4 linked regions of the Homo sapiens genome follow. The protein of the gene in region 1 interacts with the protein of each later gene in a pairwise test. Each region holds a gene or a part of one and is shown in the gene's direction. Other genes may lie near its edges.

Region 1 (7,268 bases):
ACACACACAAAAATACCATGGCATACTTATTAGAATGCCCACAATTAAAAACTAACAATTGTCAAGTGTTGGTGAGGATGTGGAGCAACTGAAATGCTCGTAGGCTGCTGGTGGGAATGCAACATGGCACAGCTACTTTGGAAAACTGGTAGTTTCTTAAAAAGTTAATAAAACGTTTTACCATACCACCTGGCCAATACACTGCCAGGTATTTGCCCAACAGCACTGAAAACATTTCCACACAAGAATGTTCTTAACAGCTGTATTCATACTAGACAAAAACTTTTTAAAAAAAACCCAAACCAACCAAATATCCATCAACAGATGAATGGATAAATAAAATAGGAAATATCCTTAAAACAGAATACTATTCAGCAATAGAAAAGATGCTTAACCTGTAAGAGGGGAATCGAAATCTAGGAGGTCAGGGCCTTTTTTTTTTTTTTTTTTTTTTTTGAGACAGAGTCTTGCTCTGTCGCCCAGGCTGGAATGCAGTGGCGCAATCTTGGCTCACTGCAACCTCCGCCTCCTGGGTTCAAGTGATTCTCCTGCTTCAGCCTCCTGACTAGCTGGGATTACAGGCGTGCGCCACTATCCCGGCTAATTTTTGTATATTTAGTAGAGACGGGATTTCGCCATGTTGGCCAGGCTGGTCTCGAACTCCTTACCTCAGGTAATCCACCTGCCTCGGCCTCCCAAAGTGCTGGGATTACAGGTGTGAACCACTGTGCCCAGCCAGACAGGGATTTCTTAAGGAAGTAAATGGTTATCTGAAAGAAAGCTACAAATTAACTGTGAAAGTTGGAATGGGTAACAAGAAATAAAGACATACCAGGCAGGGGCTGGTTCAAGCTCCCCATGGCAGATGGAAAACATGACACATTCACAGAAGTGGAAAATGGCCCTGCCCAGACAGCAAAGAGAGAGAAGAGTGATGTGAGTGGAAGCTGGCAAGGGCCATGCTAGGCAGGCCTTTTTAAGGATGTTGATATTTCTCCTAAAAGCAGTGAGAAGTCTCTGAAAGGACAAGAAGGTCGTATAATTGGATTGACATTTTTAAAATGATTCCACTAATACAGTATGGAGAACTGACTGCCAGGGAAGCAGATGGATGAGAGGAAGTGAGTCAGGGCCCTGCTGAAATCCTGGTAGGGATGATGGCACTGAGATGGGATGATGGAGATGGAGACGGATGGATGGATTCATATTTGGAATCCATAAGTATTTGGGGAGTACATCAGACTGCATTCTAGGGATAAGGAAGAAGATAATATTGAGATTCACTTTAAGACTGACTCTAGTCAGGCTCAGTGGCTCACGCCTATAATCCCAGCACTTTGGGAGGCCAAGGCGGGCGAATCACTTGAGGTCAGGAGTTCGAGACCAGCCTGACCAACATGGTGAAACCCCGTTTCTACTAAAAATACAAAAATTAGCCGAGTGTGGTGGCACATGCCTGTAATCCCAGCTACTCGGGAGGCTGAGGCATGAGAATTGCTTGAATCTGGGAGGCAGAGGTGGCAGTGAGCCGAGACTATGTGCCACTGCACTCCAGCCTGGGCGACAGAGTGAGATTCAGTCTCGAAATTAAAAAGAAAAAAAAAAAAGACTGACTCTAAGATAATGGTGCAGGAGATGTGATGGGAAGAGATCTTACGCCCCAAGACAGGGAAGGGTGGAAGAAGGAAGATCTGAGGCCAGGTCTGGACACATTTGATTTGGTTGATTTGGGACACCTGTGAGACACCCAATGGCAGTGTCAACTAGGCAGTTGAGCGTGTACATGTGAAGCTCACAGAAACCTAGGGTGAAGATTCAAACCAGGGGTGTCATGAAGGTGGTAACTGGAACTACGGAAACAGTTGCAGTCGACTAGAAGGAGAGCACAGGCGAGAACAGGAAAGAACCTGGAGCCAAGCTTGAAGGAAGTCACCATTTCGGGGATGAGTAGGGGAATGGTGAGCTAGCAAAGGGGTACGAGAAGTGACCAAAGGAAAGAGAGGGAAGCTAGCAGCGTAACGTATCAGAATTTGTGAAAAGAGGATGTTTCCAGAAGGGCGTGGAAATTGTGTTGAATGCTAATAAAATAAGAAAAGCGTAAGTCCACTGAATTTAGGAACATGGAGGTCACTGCTAACATCGGGAAGAGAAAATCCCATGGAAAATAGGCACAGAACCCAGATTAGGGTGGACTGAGGGGCGAGTGAGAATTAAGAATGTGGAAGTGATTACACAGAACTTTAGATAAGGGTCCAACTTCCTGTGATGACAGGCTGCATTATAAAGACGATGAGAGAAAACTGAACTTGGAAGGAACTGTGAAGGATATTGCTCTTGTGAAAGTTTACCCCCTTGAACTCGGTCTGAGAGGTTGGGTTTCCTTTTCCTGTGACGTAGGTGGACATCATGAACTGTGAGACTGAAAGCCTCCTTGGTGATGCTCCCTTCATAACTGCGGTGAACATTCATAACTGCTGTGAACCCAGAGAGGGGGTTTCGTTGGGGCGTCTTCCACAGGGGGACTCACGACAGTGACGGCGAAAGGCAGGAGGTGGGGGGAGAAGAACGTGCAGAGACAGAGAGGCAGTCCCACTCCTCAACACTTGTTTTCCAATGAGTTTCCTGGATTCTGCAATTAAATCCAGATCCTCGTGCATGTTTATAGGAAATCATAAAAGCGAAATGACACAAATAAATTTGGTGGCAACAAGAGAGAATGGTCTCTTTCTTAGTTCTCCTGTTGATCTGAGAAGCGACGTGTGCTGGGGGAAGGAAATAAAGAACTAGAACGCCTTCAGAGGAGAGTAGAGTGGACGAGAAAGAAAAGCTAAATATCAAAATGTCTAGACCCTGGGGTTACAGACCACAAAAAGAATAAATGACTGACTGACTGAATGACTGAATGAATGGCAAACAATAGGAAGTAGGTATGTCCTAGGGAAAGAATGGGGATTCTGTGAGCAGGAATCAGGCCACAGATGGCAGAACAGAGACTTCTTTCTGAGACTTCCTCCCTAGTTCAAGAGGAAAACACGTTCCAACGATCCTTGCTGCATTAGGTGTGTATTTCAAAGGGACCTTCAGGAGCTCCTAACCTGGGGCTACCAAGGTCAGAGAGGGGGAAACAGTGAGACTTTATCAGGGAAAGGAATGGAGCCTGAGTGCCACTCCCTGACGAAAAGCCACATGGGCACGTGAACTCGGGCCTCCTGAATTCCTGACACTTTCCCAAGAGGGACAGCACATCCATGCCCTGAGCCTCTGGAGGCTGCACCAAGTGGCTCACTCTCTGTGAAGCTGCGTTACAGGCTTGAGACGAGGCAGCACTTACGGGCATCTGCTAAGTGCTTTATATACACAACCTCACTGAATCCTCGCAGAAGTCCTAGGATGTCAGAATTCGCATGCTCACTTGACTACAGCAAACTAGACTTCAGAAAACGGATCTGCCCCCAAGGTTGTAATGAAGGGACCTGGATTTGAGCCCATATCTGCATGACTATAACTCCCACACCATTTCCATCACAACAAGATGCAGGCCAGGACCAGCCTGTTTCAGCTGAGACGGGCAAAAGAAATGTGTTGGGGGCAGAGGGCAGGAGACCATAGAGAAAGTAAAAAAATTGAAGAAGAAAAGGAAGGAGTGCCGGGTGCAGTGGCTCACGCCTGTAATCGCAGCACTTTGGGAGGCCAAGGCAGGCGGATCACTTGAGGTCAGGAGTGCAAGACCAGCCAACATGGTGAAACCCTGTCTCTACTAAAAATACAGAAATTAGCTGGGCGTGGTGGCAGGTGCCTGTCATCCCAGGGAGGCTGACGCAGGAGAATCGCTTGGACTCGGGAGGCAGAGGTTGCAGTGAGCTGAGATGGCGCCACTGCACTCCAGCCTAGACAACAGAGCAAGATTCAGCCTCGAAAAAAAAAACCAAAAAAAAAGAGGAAAAATAAAAAGGAAGGAGGAAAGCTCATTTCTGAGAATGAGCAGAATGACAGAAGAAACTGCCTAAGAAAGAGAAAAGAAAATAATCTGACTTGGGAAGTAAAAAAAGAAAAATGCCTGGGAATTTTTTTTTTAAATCAGGAATTAAGGACAGAAAAATCTGAATTTGGAAGTCAAGAGTGAGGATTCTCTAGGGAGAGAATAAAGATGCTGGGCCTTTCCTTTGGGTTTGAGAGGAAATAGTGCTTAAAGACTGACCTTCCTTTCTCTGGTCACGTGGCTGGTGCTAGTATAAATGCTTACTACCAGCCAGGTTCCTCACCATTTTTTCCTGCATGGCATGGACAGAAGCAGGGGCTAAAGCTCTGTTCCTCTCTCCTGGAAGCTTGCAGACCTCCCTTCAGAACCAATCCCAAGAAGCCACCTATCCGGAACAACACAAGGCAAGGCAGCTAGTGTAGTGCTTGTGCTCTGGGAAGAGAGGCCAGGATCAGGTTTGAGGGGAAGGTTCTGGGAGACTGGAGGAAGGATGTCAGAACCAAATGGAAGACTCATACCCAGAGACAGGAGCTAGTGTGAGGAGCAAGGAAACAGCCAGGAAATCAAGGCTGGAGAGTGGACAGAGGGACAGGACCTGGGTTGGGGCCAGCAAGGGTGACACCCCAAGTGGAAACTGAGTTACCCCGTGAAGAAGACGAGTTCTATTTATGGTCAGAATGCCACGCTCAAGGGCCAGTGAAGGCCTGTGGGCTTTTCTGAATATTTCTCTAAGGTCTTCTAGGGACAAGCCTTCCTCCTAAGGCTAGTGCTGGTTCATCCTTCTTCCCCTCCACCCTCCTCTAAGCCTCCCAGCTTCCCCTTTTCTTTTCTTTTTTTTTTTTTTTAGACGGAGTTTTTGCTCTTACCGCCCAGGGTGGAGTGCAATGGCGCAATCTTGACTCACTGCAACCTCTGCTTCCCGGTTCAAGCGATTCTCCTGCCTCAGCCTACCAAGTAGCTGGGATTACAGGTGCCCGCCATATCACCCGGCTAATTTTTTTTTTTTTTAGTGGAGATGGGGTTTCACCACGTTGGCCAGGCTTGTTTCGAACTCCTGACTTCAGGTGATCTGCCCGCCTCGGCCTCCCAAAGTGCTGGGATTACAGAAGTGAGCCACTGCGCCCAGCCCCAGCTTCCCCTTTTCTAGAGAGTCCCAGAGTTTGGTGTTGGACAGGAGAGGACAAGGTGGGGGAGAATCTGTGCTCTGCAAAACAGACGAACGGAAGTAGGAAGCTGGGCTGGTGGCTGGGCACTTGGGTCCTTTGGAGAGCTGGCACTGGGTATCCGCGCCTGGGGCGCCACAGCCTCTTTATACTGATAAGCATCTTACAGCTCTCTCCCGGCACTGATGCCTTTCTCTCCTGCAGGTCTCTGTCTGAGAAAGGGACTTGAGTAAAGTTAGAAACTGGCAACAGTAACTTCCTGTATCTGTGAGGACAGGAGGAGAAAGGCTAGGGAAACTGGAGGGGGAATTCCCTTGGGAAGCCACGAGTTGGTCTCCTCCAGAGACACATGATGGCAAACATAATCACTACTGCTTAATATCCCGCCCCAGGCAAAGTCAATAATTGCTCTGGGTAGTTCGAGCAGGTGGTGTGAGCAAGCCGTGGTGGCATCAGAAAGCACAGTCCTGGGAAGGGGACGGTGCCGGGGAGGATGTCCGCATCCTGAAGGAGAGCTGGCTGCGCGGGCTGTGAGTGAGACCTCCCTGACCCCGCCCTTTTTTGTTCCCCTCCAGGATGCTGCCGGACTGGAAGAGCTCCTTGATCCTCATGGCTTACATCATCATCTTCCTCACTGGCCTCCCTGCCAACCTCCTGGCCCTGCGGGCCTTTGTGGGGCGGATCCGCCAGCCCCAGCCTGCACCTGTGCACATCCTCCTGCTGAGCCTGACGCTGGCCGACCTCCTCCTGCTGCTGCTGCTGCCCTTCAAGATCATCGAGGCTGCGTCGAACTTCCGCTGGTACCTGCCCAAGGTCGTCTGCGCCCTCACGAGTTTTGGCTTCTACAGCAGCATCTACTGCAGCACGTGGCTCCTGGCGGGCATCAGCATCGAGCGCTACCTGGGAGTGGCTTTCCCCGTGCAGTACAAGCTCTCCCGCCGGCCTCTGTATGGAGTGATTGCAGCTCTGGTGGCCTGGGTTATGTCCTTTGGTCACTGCACCATCGTGATCATCGTTCAATACTTGAACACGACTGAGCAGGTCAGAAGTGGCAATGAAATTACCTGCTACGAGAACTTCACCGATAACCAGTTGGACGTGGTGCTGCCCGTGCGGCTGGAGCTGTGCCTGGTGCTCTTCTTCATCCCCATGGCAGTCACCATCTTCTGCTACTGGCGTTTTGTGTGGATCATGCTCTCCCAGCCCCTTGTGGGGGCCCAGAGGCGGCGCCGAGCCGTGGGGCTGGCTGTGGTGACGCTGCTCAATTTCCTGGTGTGCTTCGGACCTTACAACGTGTCCCACCTGGTGGGGTATCACCAGAGAAAAAGCCCCTGGTGGCGGTCAATAGCCGTGGTGTTCAGTTCACTCAACGCCAGTCTGGACCCCCTGCTCTTCTATTTCTCTTCTTCAGTGGTGCGCAGGGCATTTGGGAGAGGGCTGCAGGTGCTGCGGAATCAGGGCTCCTCCCTGTTGGGACGCAGAGGCAAAGACACAGCAGAGGGGACAAATGAGGACAGGGGTGTGGGTCAAGGAGAAGGGATGCCAAGTTCGGACTTCACTACAGAGTAGCAGTTTCCCTGGACCTTCAGAGGTCGCCTGGGTTACACAGGAGCTGGGAAGCCTGGGAGAGGCGGAGCAGGAAGGCTCCCATCCAGATTCAGAAATCCTTAGACCCAGCCCAGGACTGCGACTTTGAAAAAAATGCCTTTCACCAGCTTGGTATCCCTTCCTGACTGAATTGTCCTACTCAAAGGAGCATAAGTCAGAGATGCACGAAGAAGTAGTTAGGTATAGAAGCACCTGCCGGGTGTGGTGGCTCATGCCTATAATCCCAGAACTTTGGGAGGCTGAGGCAGGTGGATCACTTGAGGTCGGGAGATTGAGAACATCCTGGTCAACATGGGAAAACCCCGTCTCTACTAAAAATACAAAAAAATTAGCTGGGCATGGTGGCACATGCCTATAATCCCAGCTACTCTGGAGGCTGAGGCAGGAGAATCCTTGAACCCGGGAGTTGGAGGTTGCAGTGAGCTGAGATCACGCCACTGCACTCCAGCCTAGCGACAGAGCAAGACTCCATTTAAAAAAAAAAAAAAAAAAAAAAAGAAGCACCTTCAGGCTGGAGA
Region 2 (6,448 bases), on another chromosome or scaffold:
TGCACCTCACTGGGTGGTGCAGTAGAGTCCCCTGGCTCAACCTCCGACCCTGGAGAAGTTGGCATGCACCACTCCCAAAGCCCCACTGGGCCTCTCCCAGGGTGACTGCTCTTCCAGGCTGCCCTGGCCCTCACTGCATCCTCCCTCTGGCTCCAGAATGGGGAAAGGTCCGGAGTCTTGCTGAATGGCAACTATAGCACTGCAGCCATTCGAGTGTGACTTGGGGCATCCCAACCCCATGCCTGGACTCCTCATTACCCACTCCTCCAGTCTGTCTTGCTCCAGACCCCAGATCACCCTGGGTAGCGGGTCCCCGAAACGAGAGTCCTTTAGAATGCTGCCATCACCTGTCCCTAGGCAGTTGCATCCTCCAGCACAAAGATCCAAACTCCTGCTGCAAAGTTCTGCTCATACCCTTTAAGAAAACTCTCAACCTTTCCTCCACCTCACTGGTTCTCCCTGTGCCTCCCCAACACCTGATAGATGTCCAGTTACTGCAGAACATAACAAGTACTGGGATGGATGGTCCAAACCCAAGTCATGAATGGCATTTGTTAGTATAGTAGACATTTCCGCAGGACACAGAATCATCCCAGTGGTCCTCATACCCATTGGCCAAGTCCCATTTTCCTCCCCTCCTCCAGCAGAGGGTCCCTACACTCCAGCAGGCAGGCTAAGCTGGCCTGGCTCCTCCCCCGAAGCTCCAGGTAACCCCATCACAATGCCCATCCCCTCTCCAGCTGCCCCAAGGGGGTGCTCAACTTACCGTCTAGGAGCTCTTAGAGGCTGCTGGCTGGTCCAGTTCCTTCTCCGAGAAACAAGGGTCAGCCAGATTCAGTCGGCAGGCCAGCAGACAAGTGGAGGTGGGCGGGGAATCCAGGCAGGAGTGGCCTGGCATTTCCTGGCAGAGCCCTGCCTCCCAGCTGTCTAAAGAGGGGTGAGGGAGAGTGTCCCTGTCTATTGGCAAAGTCCAGCCCAGGTAAGGGATTAGCTGAGGATCCCAGAAGTCAGTGAACTTTCCAGTCTAGGTCTGGAAGGAAGGAGGGAGGCAGGGAGACAACCTGGGTGTAGGTGCTGCACCTTGAAACCCCTCCTTACAGTGCCCTCTGCTGGTGAGTGGCTGTCCCCAGCCAGAGGCTATTATTAAAATAGCAGATAGGAGGAGGAGGGAACCTTCATCTGAGTTTCTTAAACTATAATGTGCACAACAGTCACCTGGGAGATCTTGTTAAAATGCAGGCTCTGATTCTGTAGGTCTAGTATGGGGCCTGAGATTCTGCAGCTCAAAGAAGCTCCCAGCTGATGCCAATGCAACCGGTCCAAGGAGCTTAGAGAGCATCTAGTTCCACCCGCTCCCCACACAGAGAAGACAGTGGAGCCACTGAGACGGTTAATGACTCACCAGTTGCTGGTGGACCTGAGATGTACCCATATTTTTCCTTACACAAGGTGCTTTCTACTTCCCCCACCCAAAGTTGGCAGAGACACTGCCGGTTGGGAGACAACTGAACTTTGGGGCCATTTGCCATTCTGAGTTCTTAAAACTCTGCCTAGGAGCGGTGGCACCACAAGAATGAAAACTCCTTGTGGAACTTTTCCCATGTTTTCGGCTGTCTCCTCAGCTCCTGGTACAGCCTGATAGATAGAAGGTGTTCAATAAACATGTCTTGAATGAATGAGTGAAGCAGTTGAGAGGGAAAAGGATGCATTTTGGCTCCAACTGGCCAACACTGAGCCCAGGTGAGCCACACGTTGGGTATGTAATATTGGGCAAGCTACTTAACTCCTCTGAACCTCAATTCCCTTGTCTGTCAAATGCAGTTAAGAATATCTACCTTGTGTGAGATAATAATTGTCATTATTGAGCTAATAAATGTCAAATGCCCACCACAGAATGGGTGGTCAATAGATGGTAACCGTTGTCACCAGGGTCTGGCCTCCTGCAGTTGAGGAGGCATGGTGAACGCCCCCCCAGGCCCCTAGTTATCATCTCCCATAGAAAATAAGTAACTTCCTCTGCTTTTGTCTCAGTTAATAATTCTCTAGCCTCTTGTCTCTGACTGCAATGCCCTCCCCTCTGCTTCCTTCCCTGGTGGAGGTGAGAGGGTGGAATAAACCTCCCAGGGGAGCCCAGTACCCCAAAGTGCAGAGATGGTAGAGAGCGGGCAACCTGGGAAGCAGACCTCATGCCTAAAGACAAGCCAGGAAGGGGTGCTCAGAACTTTGATAGGGAATGAAAGGAGTGGGGTAGGGGTGTTTGTCTTTGTTGAACAAAGCTCTGTCTGAGTCACACAGGAGGCTGGACTTTGCCAACAGACAGGGACACTCTCCCCTACCCCTCTTTAGGGCGGCTGGGAGGCAGGACTTTCTGCCAGGAAGCGCCAGGTCACTCCTCCTTGACTCCCCACCCACCTCCACTTGTCAGCTGCCTTCTCCTCTGAGTCATAAAGTCCTAGGGGTTTGTGAAAGATCTGTCAAGCTAGGGTTCTAAGCCAGGAAGGTCATGCCAACCAGGAGGCTATAACCAGGGGCTGTGTTCATGGATTATGAACTCACTTCCCAAGCTAGTTCTTGCCACTCTTGGGGACAATCCCAATTATAAGGAGGCTCTGAAGAAATGTGAAGGCTCCTACCACTCACTCCCATGGCCACAGAGCTGGTTCATGGGATGCAAAGACCACAGGCATCAACAGCATTATAACTGGGGGCTGAGCTGTCACAGGAGGGCCAGTGTCAAACCCTCACCACAAGCCCTCAAACATTCCATCAAGGGGTAGCCTCCAGAGGCCAGGCACCAAGGAGGGTCTGGCAGACCAGAGGGGCTCCTCCTGAGAGGAACTCTTTGGGGCCATGAAACAGCAACTTGGACTTCCCAGCCAGTGTCACCACCCTTCTCATCTGAGAAAGGCAGATCAGCAGGGAGCACCACTCCACCCTCCTCCCAGCCCCACCCTCCTCCCAGCCCCACCCTCCTCTGCCTTCCACACATCATATGTCATCAGGCCCCCCGCCTGGGAGGTGTGCTGCCAGAGGTAAGGGGAGCACAGGCCTAGGAACCAGGAGGCACTGGGAGAGGCAGGTGTCAGGAGAAAAGAGGATGGGGGCAGGGAGGGGCAGGGAGGGGGCCTCCACCACTGGACAGAAATGTAGAAAAACAGGAAGGCAGAAGATGAGCAAACGGACAGTCAGGAGCACAGAAAGACAAGTAGAAATATGCACAGGTGGGCATGCTGCTCAGCTCTGTCCCAGAACCTCCAGGACCAGTGTCCCTGACCCTTGACAGAAAAGGATGGATTAGGGCCAGGCACAGTGGCTCATGCCTGTAATCCCAGCACTTTGGGAGGCCAAGGCGGGTGGATCACCTGAGGTCAGGAGTTCGAGACCAGCCTGACCAACATGGCAAAACCCCATCTCTACTAAAAATACAAAATTAGCCGGGCATGGTGGCGCACGCCTGTAATCCCAGCTACTAGGGAGGCTGAGACAGGAGAATCACTTGAACTAGGGAGGCAGAGGTTGCAGTGAGCCGAGATTGCACCACTGCACTCCAGCCTGGACAACAAGAGTGAAACTCTGTATGAAAAGAAAAAAAAAAAAAGGATGGATTAGATAGTCAGTCCAGAATACTGAAAATAATCAGATTGTTTTCTCTCCTTCAAATCTGGTTAATCATGGGGGGAGGCTGAAATATCATGAACAAATGAGAAGAATGATATTTGTGGGGCCTTGGTGGGGCCTTGGCTGGAGGAGGGTCTGTACATTGTCCCACATGCAAATGACATGCAAAGCAACATGCCACCTTGGCAGCTTTTTAATCAAAGACCAGGCAGTTGTTTCCTTGAAAAGTCAGGCCACAAGAAACCTGGATGCTTGTGCTTACATCCTGACACTCTGGGAATGGAAAGATGGAGCAGGAAGCTCATACCCCATGGCTCCAGGGGTAGAAGAGAGCTAAAAGTTCAGAAAAAGGAATCCACGGTGTCAACAGGCCAAGTTTGAATTTGGGCAGGAGATCAGCCTGGGTGGGCCCCATGAGTGTGCCAGTCTGATATGGTGAGATAAGCCTGGGACAGATGTGCTGCCGCATTCGTGACTAGAAAAGAGTCCCCAGGAATTTCTGGCTCCTGCCTTCAGATTGTGAACTTTCCAGGTTGGTAGATCAGCTTAGGTAGAACAGTTCTCGGTGAGGGCCAGCTACATACCTGGCTAAGCGCTGCCCACTGCAGAAAAGCTCATCACCCGGGACCTGATCTCCAGGACTCAGAAGCACTTGGAGGAAGGCCTATTCACTTAGAAGCAGTTACCAGTGCTGGGCAGTGTCCTCCAAGTGCCAGAGGAGTGCTGTGGAGAAAAGAAGTCCATGGAAGCCAGGAGATGGGCAAGGTGTGGCCTGGGGTTGGAGAGAGCTCAGAGGTACAGGACTGGAGCTGGGCCAGGGAGAGAGGAAGGACCTCCGTGAGTAGACCTTCTCTGAGGGGCTCAGGCCAGGAAATGAGTCAGGTTAGGAGGCAGAGACAGACGAGGAGCCGCAGGGGAAGGCTCATCACTAGCATGTTCTCTGCCTCCCCAGATTTTGCCTCTTCAAGGTGAATGCGGCTTCAAGGGGCTATCTTTGTGCTCCTGCCCCACCTGGGGCCCATCCTGGTCTGGCTGTTCACTCGTGATCACATGTCTGGTTGGTGTGAGGGCCCGAGGATGCTGTCCTGGTGCCCATTCTACAAAGTCTTATTGCTTGTACAGACAGCCATCTACTCTGTCGTGGGGTGAGTACTTGTTTCTCACACATGGCCCTGGTACCCAATGGGGTGGGAACAAGTCCTCTATATCTGAATTACTCCCATATATTGGCCTCCAAAGGTAGGCGCTTTGTCTTGCCTCTCACCACCATAGTGGGTCCTCCAGAAAGTAAGAAACCCTCTATGCCTGCCTGGGGTTCCAGTTAGCCCTTCTTCCACCCTCTCTAAGTCTCCCCAGCCCCTCCTCCACCTCACCATGCCCAGCTCCTCCCACCAACTCCCTCCCTGGCCCTTACATGATGCCTAAACCCATCTGCCCCCATTTCAGCCCACAAGGGTATCCAAGAGTCCTTATGCCAGAGAGCCTCCTCCATTTGCCACGGAACCTCCTCCCACTGAATGTTTTTGCCACCATGTCTCCACAGCTATGCCTCCTACCTGGTGTGGAAGGACCTGGGAGGGGGCTTGGGGTGGCCCCTGGCCCTGCCTCTTGGCCTCTATGCTGTTCAGCTCACCATCAGCTGGACTGTCCTGGTTCTCTTTTTCACAGTCCACAACCCTGGTCTGGTAAGGCACACAGTGCTCAGTAGCAGAAGTAATGTGGGAGAGGGTGAAACCACCTGGCTCCAGAAGCACATAATTCAGCAGAGCAATTGAGTGCAGGCAGGTAATGGGTGGGCAGACTTCTCTGCACTCCCATGGTGTGCACAGAGCCCCAGGGACTGAGCTCGTTGCTGGGCTGGGTACTGCAGAAAGGTGGAGGTGCTGGTTCTCGGGCAGCCAGCTGACCCCCGGCCTCTATGCCCAGGCCCTGCTGCACCTGCTGCTGCTGTATGGGCTGGTGGTGAGCACAGCACTGATCTGGCATCCCATCAACAAACTGGCTGCCCTGTTACTGCTGCCCTACCTAGCCTGGCTCACCGTGACTTCAGCCCTCACCTACCACCTGTGGAGGGACAGCCTTTGTCCAGTGCACCAGCCTCAGCCCACGGAGAAGAGTGACTGAGGCCCTAGGGCATGGGAGAGGAGGGACGCCCAGGGTGGGGAGGAAGAGTCTGCAAGCAGGGCTGTGGAGTTAGGGTTCACCCCAATGGGACCACCCTCCTGGGTCCCCTGGTGCCGTTTTTCCTTAGAAATCAGAGAAATGGGAAAGGGGGGGAAACTGATTTTACACTTAAATAATAAAATCCTATTAGTAACTCTGAAGGTATGATGTGAAGTGTGTATTTGAATGCATAATATGATGACTAGGGCGGCAGAGTGGGATAGAAGCTTCTGGACCTCTGTGTGAGTGTGTGCGCGTGAATGAATGTGTGAAGGCCCATGGGGGAGGGGTGGGCACACCAGCTCGCCTCCATTCACATGCCTCCCCACCTGGCATAAAGATTTAGCACTCAGATGTTTAATTACCTGAAAAACAAAAGGCTTTTTAAAAGTGACAAAAAAGCCAAAACAGAAAAATACACCTTAAAAAAGGGTACTAGGGGGCCAGGAGTGGTGGCTCACACCTGTAATCCCAGCACTTTGGGAGGCCAAGGCGGGTGGATCATGAGGTCAGGAGTTCGAGACCAGCCTGGCCAACATGGTGAAACCCTGCCTCCAAAAATACAAACATTAGCTGGGTGCAGTGGTGAGTACCTGTAGTCCTAGCTACTCAGGAAGCTGAGGCAGGAGAATCACTTGAACCCGGGGAAGAGGAGGTTGCAGTGAGC
Region 3 (7,083 bases), on another chromosome or scaffold:
GGAATGGGTGGGGGGCGCTCTGGACCCTAAACCAGCACAGCGTGCCAGGCCCTGTGCTAAGGATTTAATCACCCTCGATTAATCCCATGATGCGGGCTAATTCTCCCCCGGAGAGTTTAAGTGACCTGTTAGACAAGAACACCCTCCGGCCCCTCCCGTCTCAAGCGGCCCCACTCCGTTCCCCAGGCTCTGCGCTGCAGAAGCAGCTTTCTTGCTCCTCCTCCGGAAGGGTCTCCCGCCCCAGGACTTGCCCTTGACGTTCCTTCTGGCAGCGGAGCCTCCCAGGGCTGGCTAGCACTCATGGAAAGTTGAAGTTGTTTGCTTGTTTATTGCAGGTCTCCCTCCCAGAATGTAAGCTGCTCACCGGACTGGAACCTTGTCTGTCCAGTCCCCAGTGCCCAACCAGGGCCTGCACATACCAAGTGCTCAATACCTGTTGAAAGTGGATTGGAATGAGAATCTCCCCTCCCATGACCTGGAAAGGGGGCTCAGGCTGTGTCATTTGCCCAACTTCTGGCTGCAAAAAGTGAGGCAAACTCAAAAGAAGCTGTGGAAAGCAGCCCAACCTGAGACCCCCTTTCTCTGGGAGATGGGGAAGGTCAGGCTTTGGGTCTCTGGAGGGCAGGGATAATGGTTGCTATGGAGACTGATGGTGGCTCCTTGTGCACCCAGAAATTGAGAAGGGCCATGCACTGGCCACTCAGGCGTCTGGAGCTTGAGCCTCCAGCCTCCCTGATCTTCATCTGTAGCCTAAAGCTGGGGTGGGGAAATGTGATTCCCTCTCCAGGACCCTCAACAGAGACGGTTTGTGGGGGTTAAACATGTGAGACCAGGCCAGAACAGTGGCTTATGCCTGTAATCCCAGCACTTTGGAAGGCCAAGGCAGGTGGATTGCTTGAGCCCAGGAATTTGAGACTAGCCTGCTCAATGCGGCCAAACTGTATGACTGCAAAAAATACAAAAATTGCTGGGCGTGGTGGCATGTGCCTAGTACTTGGGAGGCTGAGGTAGGAGGACTACCTGAACCCAGGAGGTCAAGCCTGCTGTGAGTTGTAATCACACCACTGCACTCCAGCCTGGGTGACAGAGTGAGACCTTGTCTCTAAAAACAAACAAACACCATATGGGATCCATAGTTGGGTGCTGGCCCAGGATGAGTCTTCAATAAAGGGGCTGGGGGAGTCAGTGCAGGAAGCTGGGTCTGCAGATCTCACTGTAGTCACTCACAATGTTGGCCCTTCTTCTGGCTCAACCTCACCACTCAGGGAAACTGAAGTGCTGAGATACCTGCTAGGCCCCCAAGGGGTTGTTCTGGGGGCGTGGAGGGAGAAAGAGGGACACGTATGGGCATATAAACAGGTGCTGTTCCTCTTGGCCTAAGACCCATTTTGACCCAGCTCTGCCCAGGACTTTGCTGTGTGACCCTATTAGACGAGTGAGGCTCCATCTCTGGGCCTCTGGTACTCTCGTAGGTAAATGTTGGACTGGTCTACCTCTCTTCCCCTGTGACTTGGGGCAAACTGAAGGAGAGAGGATACGGCTCAATCTGCCCAAAGGTCCTTCCAGCCCAACAAAGACGGCCAAGCCCAGGCAGGGGGCCAGGGAGCAGGGGAGGGGCCTCCTGCACACACCGCAACTCTTTGTCTCTGGGCCCTAATCCGGCCTGGGATCTAGAGAGGAAATTCAGGCAGCCCTGCTGCTGCCAAGCTGGCTAGACCCATGCTCCCCTTCCCAGTTCTGCAGGGAGGGAGAAGAAACTGGTTCCAGCCCAAGCCCCTTCCTATTCTGTCCTGGGGAGTCTGCCCCTCTCCCCTCCACACCTTGCTCTCAGAATCAGGACCTCCAGCCCAAGGAGTGCTGAAGAACCTCAAATTCTCTCTCTGTACCCTCTCCACAGCTGCAGAGGGAGGGCTGGAGGAGTGGCCAAACTGGAGGTTTGAGGAACAAGTTCACTAAGGTGTTGGTGCACAGCAGGGCCCTGCAGGGCTCAGTGGCTCACACCTATAATCCCAGCACTTTAGGAGGCTGAGGTAAGCGGATCACCTGAGGTCAGAAGTTCGAGACCAGCCTGGCCAACATGGCGAAACCTCGTCTCTACTAAAAATACAAAAATTAGTCAGGCGTGGTGGCGGGCGCCTGTAGGCCCAGCTAATCGGGAGGCTGAGGCAGGAGAATTGCTTGAACCTGGGAGGCAAAGTTTGCAGTGAGCTGAGATTGCACCATTGCACTCCAGCCTGGGCGACAGTGAGACTCCGTCTCAAAAACAAACAAACAAACAAACAAAAAACAAGGTGGGGCAGAGGAAGGGAGAAGGAGCCTCACCTTGAGGGCCCTGAGCCTAGGTCCTAATCCCAGTTGCTAACTGGCCTTATGACCAAGGAGCCTCAACATGTCACAGCTTTTGTGGGCTGTGGGCAGTAGGAGAGAGGGCACTGCCACTGGAGACCTGCGCTGTGGCCTCTTTGGCCAGTGCCTTGCTGTGCCATGTGGGACAAATCCTTTCCCCTCCTTATTGGGCCCTAATTTCCCATCTGTGAACAGTTCATAGCAACTTGGGGCTGCTGGGAGGAGGGCAAGCAAGCCTGGAACCCAGAGCGTGGCCAGAAATGATGTCGACGATGCCCATGACCACCTCCTCTGTTCTCCAAGACCTTTGCCTCTCCTCAGGCCCCTGGTCACCTTTCCCTGGGTCTTCGTTCTTTGATGTGAGAAGAGGGCAGCTTTAATCCCCCACCTGATAGAGAAGAAAACTAAGCTGTGGAGTAGGGTGGAGTGAGGGAGTGGAAGGAAGGTTGTGGTTTCCTGGTGAGGTGTGATGCTTAGACCTGGTCTCTAAAAATAAAATTAAAGTTAAAAAAAATGAATTAAAAAAAACCGCCTAGTCTCTGAGGTCAGAAAAGACCAACACTCAAATTTTGGCTGGGCGTTCTTAAAAGGATGCTTTCTTCATCTGGAGATATCTGGTGGAGAGGATTAGGTAAAATAATGTATTACTATTCTCAGGGTACCATAAATCCGCTGGCCCGCTCCCTCAGGCCACTGGCCCACGGCTCCACCCATGTCACGCCCCTTTCCCCGCAGCCAATCAGCGCTACCTCCCCAGAGCGCCCGTTCCCTCCACCACTCGCCGCAGATCTCCCGGTGCCACCCGTTCCAGGGAGGCTGCTTGGTTTGGGAAGATACTCCCCAGGGGTCTCCCCTTCCCTTGGGGGCGCAGCTGAGGACTGCGAGGTGCGTCCGAGGGCCAGAAAGCTGAGATCGATTCTGAGTTCAAGGATCAAGTCTGCCCTCAAACCATTTTACAGATCGGGAAATCCGAGACCCAGAGAAGGGATACTCCCGCCCAAGGGCCACCGAGCCGAGAGAAGCCCGGGCCAGGGCTTTCTTCGCGTATGTGGGAATGCAGGCGCGAGCCCTTTGGGGGGCACAGTCCATACGGGAGCTGAGGCCGAAGCCGGAGCACTAACTGTGCTGTCTAGGGGATCGAGACGGCACTAGAGGGCTGGACTCCTTACTGCCTCAGTTTCCCCAGCACTACCTTTGTTGAGGAAACGGAGATGGGGATACTGGCCGAACGCGCGCCTGCTGAGACACAGTGCAACTGTATTTAGACGCCCCGCACCTCCCCAAATCTGATCGAGGCTCCTTTTTTCAAGCACCCGCTATCTCTCAGCCCTTTAAAATCCGGCCCTGCCGTTCGAGTCTCTCGGCGTTCCATTGGAAAGACTCGGGGCTCCAGCTCCCTTCTCTAGAATGAACTGCTCTGACTGCCGCCCGGCTTTACCGGAGCTTTAACTGCGCAGGCGCAAGGGCAGCCAACCCGGTAAACGGAAGAGCTGGGTGCTGACGGCGCTGGGCGGGTCAGGGGCGGAGAGCGTGCTAACCAATGACTTGAGGGAGTAGGGGGCCGGGTTTGGGCCCTCAGTTGCTAAGGGCTACCCGAGTGGGAAGCGGTTCAAGAGATGGGGTGAAGGGTGGTTCACCGGTTCTTCAAGTCCTCAGCCTTCTGGCCCGCGGAAGTTAAGCAACCAAGAGGCGGGCCTAAGACCGGAAGCAGGAAGGAGGGCGCAGGAAGCAGGGCGCCGCAGCCTGTCGTACGGTCCTTCTGTGGGTCTGTCGGTGCCGAGGGCAGGATGGAGAAGCTGCGGCTCCTGGGCCTCCGCTACCAGGAGTACGTGACTCGTCACCCGGCCGCCACGGCCCAGCTGGAGACAGCAGTGCGGGGCTTCAGTTACCTGCTGGCAGGTGCCACCCTGACCTTTGATCAGTTCCTTCTGGGCCCTGACCTATGACCCCAGTGGCCCCCTTCCCTGCGGAGTCAGGGTAGTGATCGCTGTGCTTGAGAAGACCCGTCCAGGTTCCCAAAGGGCGTAGGGAGGGGATTTCCGGGACCCGAAGACGAAATGTGAGGCAGATGCTCACTCACACCTCCTTCTGTACCCTCTCCCCAGGTCGATTCGCCGATTCGCACGAGCTGTCAGAGCTGGGTGAGCCGGGCTCTGGGGGTGGGGGATGGGGGATCGGCTGCCTGGCCCCTGGTGAGTTCCCCAGAGAGGGTGAGCACCCCAGCCCGAGGACCTGGGCTGCCCGTTAGACACCTTGTGCTATGACTGAATCGGCACAAGGTCTGTTGTTCATTGTCCTGGGCCCTCCATGTCCCTAAGTCAAGAGACACGTCTGGGGACCTTATCTGAGTATTCACTACTGGCCAGGCGCTGGACTAAGTGCCTTTCTTACCTTTACTTGTTAATCCTCCCTACAGTCATATTAAGTGGTACTTATTGTCATCACTGTCCATTTAAGGAAGAAGCTCAGTGAGGTTAGAGAACAGTCACTGATGGTCCCAGAACCAAGATTCAAGTCTAGATCTCCCAGATTCCAGGATTCCCAGATTGTAACTACCTCAAGAGTGTTTGCCCAGTGACTGCTGTCACAGTCCTGAAAGAATGCACTGGGTTTTGAAAAGCAGAGGTGAGGCCAGGTGCAGTGGCTCACACTTGTAATCCCAGCACTTTGGGAGGCAGAGGCAGGTGGATCACGTGAGGTCAGGAGTTCGAGACCAGCCTGGCCAACATGGTGAAACCCCATCTCTACTAAAAATACAAAAATTAGCTGGGCATGGTAGCAGGTGCCTGTAGTCCCAGCTACTTGAGAGGCTGAGGCAGGAGAATTGCTTGAACCTGGGAGGCAGAGGTTGCAGTGAGCCGAGATTGTGCCATTGCACTCCAGCCTGGGCAACAAGAGTGAAACTCCGACTCAGAAAAAAGAAAAGTGGAGGTGGAATAGACCCTCAGGAACAGGCTGCCAAGAGAGAAAGGGCCAGGAGGTGGGACCGTGTATCTGTGGCAGTTCAGAGAGCGATGGGCAGTTGTGGGCAGCTGGATGACCAGTGCCATCCAGCAGGGCAGTAACTGGCTTGTCACTGAGATTGACCCATCCTTTCTTGGTCCAGCCACCCTTGTGAGATCATGTTGGGGAGAGGGGAGTGCTGAGGAAGTGGGTGGAGAAGAAGGTTGGTTTCCACATAGTCTGTGGGTGTCTGAGCAGAGCATGTGACAGGTGATCCCTGCAGCTCTGGGGAGAAGGTGAGAGGGATGGAGGCTGCAGAGCCAGCCTCTCAAGGCCACTCTCTACCCCTCAGTGTACTCTGCCTCTAACCTGCTTGTGCTGCTCAATGACGGGATCCTACGGAAGGAGCTTCGGAAAAAGTTGCCTGTGGTGAGAATTCTGCCAAGAACAGGGTGGGAAGCATGGGGACTCAGGAATGAAATAGTAGCAGCTAGCCCATGCGTGCAGCACATGTCTCATGGAGTATGAGACAGGCCTATGTCCATCTGAGCCTCAAACCATCTCATTAGGTGACCTGTAAAGTGTGAGTATTCCCATCTTAGATGAAGAGACTGTCTCAGGTGAAGAGAGGTAGAGTCAGCTGTTTCAGGTCCCCCAGCCTGTTAATGGTGGAGTTGGTGTTTGAACTCACACCTGCACAGTTAGGCTTGGAAAGGGGAAGGTCCACATCTCTTGTCAGAGAAGCTCCCTCCTAGGAGAAGGGCCTGGGACTCCCTGTAGTCCCAGGCCCCCTGACTTCTTGGCCTGGGGTTCTTGCAGTCGCTGTCCCAGCAGAAGCTGCTGACATGGCTGAGCGTGCTGGAGTGCGTGGAGGTGTTCATGGAGATGGGAGCTGCCAAGGTGTGGGGTGAAGTGGGCCGCTGGCTTGTCATCGCCCTCGTCCAGCTGGCCAAGTAGGTTGGGATTGTGGAGAGGGTCCTGGGTGGGGGTGACGCAGGCTAGCTACACAGATGGTGCTCAGCAGAGCATCCCTGGCCTCCCGCCGGCTAGCCACCTCCCCACAACCCTGACATACTCCCCGACCCAGGGCTGTACTGCGGATGCTCCTGCTGCTCTGGTTCAAGGCTGGCCTCCAGACTTCACCCCCTATCGTTCCACTGGACAGAGAGACCCAGGCACAGCCCCCGGGTGAGCTACTTCCCCAAGCCCTGGAGCGGAATGGGCCATGGGACTAACTTGAGGATTTAGATCCAACCAGCATGAATACAGTAGTATCTGTTTATGGAGCACGCCTGTCCCTATCAACTATGTGTTCTCATTGCCATGTATTCGACAGAGAAGACAATGATGCGGCTAGGGACAAAATCAGAACACGAACCCAGTACTTGTCATGGCCAGAGTCATTCATTTTTGTAGCCTGCAGGAAGAGGGAACAGATGGGATGCCGCCAACCTCGACTCTGAGCCTGGTTCTGTGTCCAGAACCATAGCCTCTAGAGGCAGGAGGCAGGGCACGCACCACATCTGTCCCTTCAGGGCTTTGGGCCCATCCCGTCAGCTTCTGGGCCTCACTCTCTGGACATTGAGTTGGGGCCGTTCATTGCCTCTCATCATGATTGTTTTGAAGGCAAAGGATTGAGAGGAGACGGCCCCTCTGGTGCTGTGGTCTCCATAGATGTGGTCAGGCTGGGCCTTCCCTGCCTTGCCTGTCCATGGGTTCCGGGAGGCTGGCTCTGGCCACAGCTATGCTGAGCTTTCCCCAGGCTAGGGAGGGCTGCAGAGTGCTTTCCTCTGT
Region 4 (7,025 bases), on another chromosome or scaffold:
TGCACCAGACTGAATAGAGCCTTTTCCTAAGACAAGTCTCCACTTCTTGTGTTACAGATCAATAAAATAAGAGCTAGTTGAACCAGATGGCCTTAAGGTTCTTTCTAGATATGGCCTTGGAATTTGTGACTTTATCTTGGGACATCACAGTGGAAGCCCCATAAATTTTTATAGCCTAGGAACTGTGCTTTTTATATTGGCTGGCTTGGAGCCAGTAGGTGCCCTAATAAGTAGCAAGTATAACACTAAATATAAATGCTAAGTGACTTGCAGGAAGAAGAGGACATTTTTAACCATTTTCCCCAAATTGGAAAACAAACTCAGGCTTTTCTTTCTGATTTTTATCCCTATGATTGGGACCAATAATAAAACACAATGCAGTGGACAGAGCAGATAGGTAGTAATGGACGAGTGCCTTGATATTCCTCCTTAGGGAGCTTACATTCTACCTTGGAAACAAGATATACACACACCAGCTAACTAACTAGGCAAGATATTATTGCTTGCCTTACACCAGAAAAACAATCTGAAACATTTTTTTTCCTATTTTATTTTTCATTCAAGTGCCTGATCTTGAATTAAATAGTTTCCTAAATTCAGCAAAAGAAATGCAAACGGCATAAACGATCTGCCCAATTCATTCTCTTCAAAGTTGCATTCTTTTTTAAATAAAAATTGGAATTTTTGCCAAGAGAATTCAAAGTAAGAGAAACTGTTTGCAGTTAGTGATTACAATTCCTGAGGAAGAGAGCTCAAGAAAACAAGATTAAGGGATCCAAGTTTTTACTCTGAAGTTTTAAAATGAATTATTCAAGTTAAAATAAATAATTCCATTGGTAGCTATACAACAGTGTGTTTCGAAAAGGCTTCATAAGTTGAGCTTTCAAAAATTAAATTATTTGAGTACATTAGGGAGATTTTTAAATTCTATAGAAATAGAAACAAAAAGTAGAATAGGGTTATTGCTGGACTGGGAAAAGGAAGAAATGGAAAGTGACTCAAAATGGGAATAGAGTATCTCTTGGGAGTGTCCTAACATTAGATAGTGGCAATTATTGCACAACTAAAAACCCATACTTAACCCCACTGAATTGTAATAATCATAATGCTAAGGGTAACCGCAAATGCCATTTATTTGCCGTTGACCGCTGGGAGACTTACCTGACGCAGTGCAATGGGACCCTCAGCGTCTTTAGAAATGGAATGAAATGGGCATATCAATACCCACCTCCATAAAATAAAAAGTATTAAGATGCCCTTTTTAAAAATCCTATAGCGAATACACATGTCATGTGAATCATTTTTTAAATCTCTTTTTATCTTTTGTAGAAATTATAAGATTCTAGATCACATTGGAACCCTCACATTCATTCTCTTGCTTGAGTAAAGGTGGGTCACTGACCCGAAAGTGAGAGCAGAAAGGTAAATGGGACATGGTCTGTCCCATCACCATCCCTGCTAAGGCACTGGCTTCTGACGTCCTCCTTCGCATCTGGCTCTCCCATATTGTCATCTTCTTGGGCAGGGATCCAGTCCCATTCAAGTTGGGGGCTCCCTGGAAGCAGCCACCTAACTCTACACATAATTGAGTCTTGATAATTGTTCTTTAGTTGACTTGGCCTAAACTTGTTAAAGAGAACATAGAAGGAAACTTTGAAGCCTCTTTTGGATTACCTCTTGTGCTTGGCACTTACATGTATTTTCTCATTGAATACTCACTACGACAGTGAAATCAGTTTCATTTTAGAGATGAGAAAACTTAGTCAACTGGAATGTCTTTTAAAGGCTGAAGACCTTTCAGCCTGCAAGATCCTAAATACTGGTCATCATATTTGCCTTTTTCACTCTGTGGCAGGCGCTGTGTTAAGTGCTTTTCAGGGATGGCTCATTTACTCTACAATAAATCAGAGATAGGCACTCATATGGTTTCCATTTTAAAGATAAAAACACTAGACTTAGATAAATTAATTCACTTCTGTCACATAGCAAGTGACAGAGCAACATATCGCATGTCGGTGTGTACTTTTAAGCACAGTGGAGCATAGTGGTTCTCAACCTTGTGTCAGCACCTGAGAACTACCTGTGCATTCACATATACAGCGACACATGCACTCACATACACTCTCAGCCCTTTCCCTGCACCTTGACTGGTATTTCTCCAACCTGGCTGCATGTGACAATCAAGTGGAAAGCTTTTAAAAGTACAGATTCCAGGGTCCTACCCCAGACTAATCAAATTAGAAGTGGGAGAGTGAGCCTCTTTGGGTAAATAGGTTTTTTTGTTGTTGTTGTTTGTTTTTGAGACAAGAGTCTTGCTTTGTCACCCAGGCTGGAGGGCAGTGGCATGATCTCGGCTCACTGCAACCTCCACCTCCCAGGTTCAAGTGATTCTCCTGCCTCAGCCTCCCGAGTAGCTGGGATTACAGGCATGCACCACCACATCTGGCTAATTTTTGTATTTTTAGTAGAGATGGGTTTCACCATGTTGGCCAAGCTGGTCTCGAACTCCTGACCTCAGGTGATCCACCTGCCTTAGCCTCCCAAAGTGCTGGGATTATAGGTGTGAGCCAGCCACCGTGCCGACCATTTGGGAAACAGGTTTTTAAAAAGCAGAGTAGGCTGGCCCGAGTTCCAAAGCACCGTGCTAGGAACCATCTAGAGTTAAAGTTCCTTCTGTCACTCATATTTAGGCTAATGGTTTTAATTAGGTCCTTGAATGAGGTAAATGTCTTACATGATTATTTATGGATTCCTGCATTTAGCCTTGTCCTTTGAACATAAGAAGTGCTAAAAGAGAACTTGTTGAATTGAATAGAAAGCAGTTTTCAAGGAAACCTTCATAGGCAGCAGAGCTTAAAGAGTAGCAACATTTCTGTTTCAGTTAGTAAGCCTAGTTCTGTAGAAGAATGGCTCATGCCTGTATTGTCTTATTTTTGTGCCTAATGGGTATATTTAAGGACTTGTATATCTTGGCATTGCTGTATAATACTAATACCAATGGAGAATGGAGTCATTTCTGGTAAGTAGCAGTATATTAATATGTAATAATACAATTACATACCTCTCACCAGCTTCAGGTAAATGCCTTTGGTCAAGATGAAAATACAGAGGCCGGGTGTGGTGGCTCACGCCTGTAATCCCAGCACTTTGGGAGGCCGAGGCAGGTGGATCGCAAGGTCAGGAGGTGGAGACCATCCTGGCTAACACAGTGAAACGCTGTCTCTACTGAAAAAAAACAAAAAAATTAGCCGGGCCTGGTGGCGGGCACCTGTAGTCCCAGCTCCTCGGGAGGCTGAGGCAGGAGAATGGCACGAACCCGGGAGGCGGAGCTTGCAGTGAGCCAAGATGGCACCACTGCACTCCAGCCTGGGCGACAGAGCGAGACTCTGTCTCAAAAAAAAAAAAAAAAGATGAAAACACAGAATACGAAGGCAGGTGAATATTGGTATTATAGGAAATCTGGAAGCTTCAGGAGAGCAAAGATAACTGCTCACTTTGTTCTTCTTCCAGCGATTGAGCAGAGCTGAATGGAAGACAAGCTCAAGAAAACCTGAACATTTTAAATGACTAGTTTTCAGAGTGCCTCAAGATGAATGTCAGGAGGAAGTTTTTAACTTTGTAAATTTGTTCCTAACAATCACTGTTGAATGTGGGGAATCTTCCCCAACTGTTTCACAGATCACTAAAGAGACTCTATTGAATTCCACAAACATTTTTTGAGTGCCTAATATATTCAAAACACTGGGTTAAGAGCTGTAGAGAATAGTAGACTACGGCAGTGTTTTTCAGTCTTTTGTTCATTATGCCTCCTCCAGAATACTTTTTAGACGTTGTTTTCTTAATCCCTCCCCTGCCATAGATATAGTGTGTACTGGTTCAGGTACTGTATGTATATTTGTACTTTATTGTTATAAAAAGAGTAAGATATCTCCCCCATCCCAAGAACCAATTTTGCCCCGTTGCTGGGCACCATTTAAAGTAATGTTCCTATCATCAACACTGGGTCCATTTTTCGTTTGACAGCAGTCTTGGTGATTCCTGGTCAGGAGGGATATATAAACATTCCAGGAGACCTGAGCATATTTCTGTCCCTGGGCTTTGCTACCTAAGCTGACTGGGATCCTGATTAAAGACCTTTCTGGTGAAGCAAAGATCCCAATAAGAACATATGACCAATTTCCTGCAGTTTACTAGGAAAGCTGTATCGTAGTTCTGGGAACAAGTGTGTCGTCACAGTAATTCTCACTCATGGCCTGATACACGCAAGGAAGAGTTAAATAAGAAAGCTTGACATTCTTCTCTGTGAGATCAATGCTAAGTATATGTGATCCAAAGGCTATGAACATTGAGATAAAGGACAGTGGGTAATTGAAATCCATCCACGCTGTTATTCTGGCCCTCTAATTAGAATGCATTTTAGTGTTCTGTATCTCAGTTTTTGTGCCTTCACCCCCTCTTTTATTATTCACTATACAGGAAGCATCCAGGATGTGGGAACATTGTGACATTTGCACAATTTTTATTTATTGCTGTGGAAGGCTTCCTCTTTGAAGCTGATTTGGGAAGGAAGCCACCAGCTATCCCAATAAGGTATGGTACATTAGAGTCTCTTTTAGCTTTTGGATTTTTTAAGAAAGTAAAGAGGTGGTACCTGTATAAAAGGAGGATGAGACATTCTTTTATAAGATTTATTTCAAAGATACCAGTAGAATAATAAGTCATTTTCTGAATTTAATATGTTGTGAAAATCCGGGGTACCTACTTCGAAAATAAAATTTCTGCCACAAGATTTAAAATAACCATGATGGAGACAAGAGTGTGTATGTGTGTGTGTTCTTATTTAGTATAGGATTAGTCAGAAGGCCTAGTGTGACCACAAATTTTGTGCTGTCTTCTGTGTTGGTGAAGTTATCAAACATTCTAAAAGGGGAGTATCCTTGTTTCTTTTTAAAAACGAATGGCTTTTGGAAATAAATAGAGGTAGTAGTTACATAACTTTGTGAATGTACTAAATGCCACGGAATTGTTCACTTTAAAATGGTTAATTTTATGTTATGTGAATTTCACCTCAATTAAAAGAAAATGAATGGCAAGCAAAGTCAAAATTTGTTGATGCCAGACCTGTAGTACATTAGTCCAAATGTGCATAATTGTACTCATGGGGCCAAATAGAAAACAGGGCAGTTCTTATGTTAAACAGTGTATTGAAAACTCAGCCTTCTTGCTGAGAGTGACTTGAGATAAAAGTGTAATCCATCCAGTTGTGAGTATTTAGTAGGATGATGTCACTTACTCCCGTTTAGAGCGACATTCTGGTGTGAATATATCCAAGTATGAAGGCAAAGGCCCATCTTTGTTGGTTTTCTTTTGCAGCATTCTTACGTAGCCTGCTATAGAAAATCTGGCTGAATTTTGTTAATATTATACTTTTAAAGTTCCCAGTGCGATGCTAAATATTCCAGATACTTTTAGTTTTTCATTTGCTTTAGTATCTGCATAAAACTTTCTGCCCCTAAAGACCAGCATTTATATTGCAGTAAAAGCCCCAGCATTTCTTGACTCCTCTGGCCCTTTCCTGCCTCTTCCCACTATCTCTCCCCATTCTCTCCACCACTAGCATAGATCAGGAAGTATACCCTGTCACCATATCTTTTATAATAGCATCCTAGCTGGCTGACTTCCCTGCCTCCCACCTCTTCATCCATCAATTTCACTTAATATCGTTTTATCATGTCGCCCCACTCTGTGGTTACCACGATGTTCTGAATGATGTCCAGACTCCCCATCCTGCCCTTTGAGGGTCTCTGTGATCTTGCCCTCATAACCATATTCTCATGCATGTCCTATGTGTGTTGGCCATTTTATTTTCTGTAGGTGGAGCCATAAACAAAATTTTGCTCATGTCGTTCATCCCCATCCACAATTTCTAGGCAAGCAATGTGGAATAGTTAAATTAATTACCCTAAAAGACCTTGACAAACTCTGTAAATGGCACCTCTTCAAGGTAGAACTAAGAAAATTTGGCAAGAAACTTTGTAAAGTCGCTGATAGTATATTATTTAGAAGCTGTGAAGAAGCTGTTGCTGGTAATTTTGCATATGTGTTCATTGTCAAGTTCCTCAGACTTTCCAGACTATATTAATTCAGCCTTGGCTTGACTGCCTGTTGTGGTGTATGGCTCCACACCTAACTAGCAACGCAGAATCGGTTCTTTCAGGGAAGATCACTTAGGACTCAGTGCTGTCATATCCTTCAGATGTGCAAAGGTGGAAAATGGTTGGGAATCTCCAAGATCAACATTTCCTGAAGAATATGGAACCACTTATTTGCTTTTGCCCTGCATTCTTTAGCCATTTATTTTAAATGCTGTTTTTTTCTCTTACTCAATATAGGAAGTTGAGTCATATGAAATTTCTGACATTCAACTCTTTTTGACCTATAAAAACGGCAATTTTATATGGTTTGGCCCAATATATGTAGAAGGCATCTTATGTATTTTCTGAATCACAGTGATGACATACAAATGTAAAATTATTTGTTTAATCCATCTGTTCATAATAATTCATTTGTATTTATCCCTTTAAGTTATTAGGGTTACTGGATTTTTTTTTTTTTTTAGTTTTTGTTTCTATTATTTTAAGACCTATAAACTTTCAAAAAACAGAGACCCTGATTTTAAATAAAAATCTGTACAAGTCAAACCATGTCCTCATTAATTTGGAGGCCACTAGTTCAGAATGCGGGAGAATTTTAGCAGCTGCTAGGCTGAAAATAATCCTTAACTTAGCAAATACTTTCTTTAGAAACAGCGAAAATTAACAGTACAAACAAGTGTATAGAGGAGGTATTTGAGAAAATCAGCCATTTTCAAGTTCTTCAGAGGTATATGAAAATTATTTACAAAGAATCAATACAATCATTTTAAGTTGCTATGTATACTTGAAAATTTTTAAATAGTGTTTCTTTAAATGTATTTTATAACTTAGATTTTCCCATGTTAGTCTGGCTTTGTGAAGCGTTTTGAT

Evidence for each region.
Region 2: the proteins of FFAR2 (region 1) and TSPO2 interact in binary tests that used the Homo sapiens proteins (3 or more experiments, as listed by UniProt).
Region 3: the proteins of FFAR2 (region 1) and PEX16 interact in binary tests that used the Homo sapiens proteins (3 or more experiments, as listed by UniProt).
Region 4: the proteins of FFAR2 (region 1) and SLC35B4 interact in binary tests that used the Homo sapiens proteins (3 or more experiments, as listed by UniProt).

What each region holds. Positions count from the first base shown.
Region 1 is NC_000019.10:35,443,997-35,451,264, forward strand, and holds the start of FFAR2 (free fatty acid receptor 2), read left to right. Parts: upstream 1-4,260; 5' UTR 4,261-4,383; intron 4,384-4,826; exon of another isoform or gene 4,827-4,949; intron 4,950-5,045; exon of another isoform or gene 5,046-5,204; intron 5,205-5,222; exon of another isoform or gene 5,223-5,346; intron 5,347-5,717; 5' UTR 5,718-5,718; coding exon 5,719-6,711; 3' UTR 6,712-7,268. UniProt on the Homo sapiens protein: G protein-coupled receptor that is activated by a major product of dietary fiber digestion, the short chain fatty acids (SCFAs), and that plays a role in the regulation of whole-body energy homeostasis and in intestinal immunity.
Region 2 is NC_000006.12:41,038,396-41,044,843, forward strand, and holds TSPO2 (translocator protein 2), read left to right. Parts: upstream 1-4,071; 5' UTR 4,072-4,383; exon of another isoform or gene 4,384-4,413; intron 4,414-4,570; 5' UTR 4,571-4,590; coding exon 4,591-4,763; intron 4,764-5,161; coding exon 5,162-5,303; intron 5,304-5,544; coding exon 5,545-5,742; 3' UTR 5,743-5,942; downstream 5,943-6,448. UniProt on the Homo sapiens protein: Cholesterol-binding protein involved in the redistribution of cholesterol from lipid droplets to the endoplasmic reticulum. Required to meet cholesterol demands during erythropoietic differentiation.
Region 3 is NC_000011.10:45,914,862-45,921,944, reverse strand, and holds the start of PEX16 (peroxisomal biogenesis factor 16), read left to right. Parts: upstream 1-4,067; 5' UTR 4,068-4,133; coding exon 4,134-4,245; intron 4,246-4,451; coding exon 4,452-4,487; intron 4,488-4,803; exon of another isoform or gene 4,804-4,946; coding exon of another isoform or gene 4,947-4,971; intron 4,972-5,641; coding exon 5,642-5,718; intron 5,719-6,108; coding exon 6,109-6,242; intron 6,243-6,376; coding exon 6,377-6,477; intron 6,478-7,083. UniProt on the Homo sapiens protein: Required for peroxisome membrane biogenesis. May play a role in early stages of peroxisome assembly. Can recruit other peroxisomal proteins, such as PEX3 and PMP34, to de novo peroxisomes derived from the endoplasmic reticulum (ER).
Region 4 is NC_000007.14:134,306,931-134,313,955, reverse strand, and holds part of SLC35B4 (nucleotide sugar transporter SLC35B4), read left to right. Parts: intron 1-4,476; coding exon 4,477-4,590; intron 4,591-7,025. UniProt on the Homo sapiens protein: Antiporter that transports nucleotide sugars across the endoplasmic reticulum (ER) membrane in exchange for another nucleotide sugar.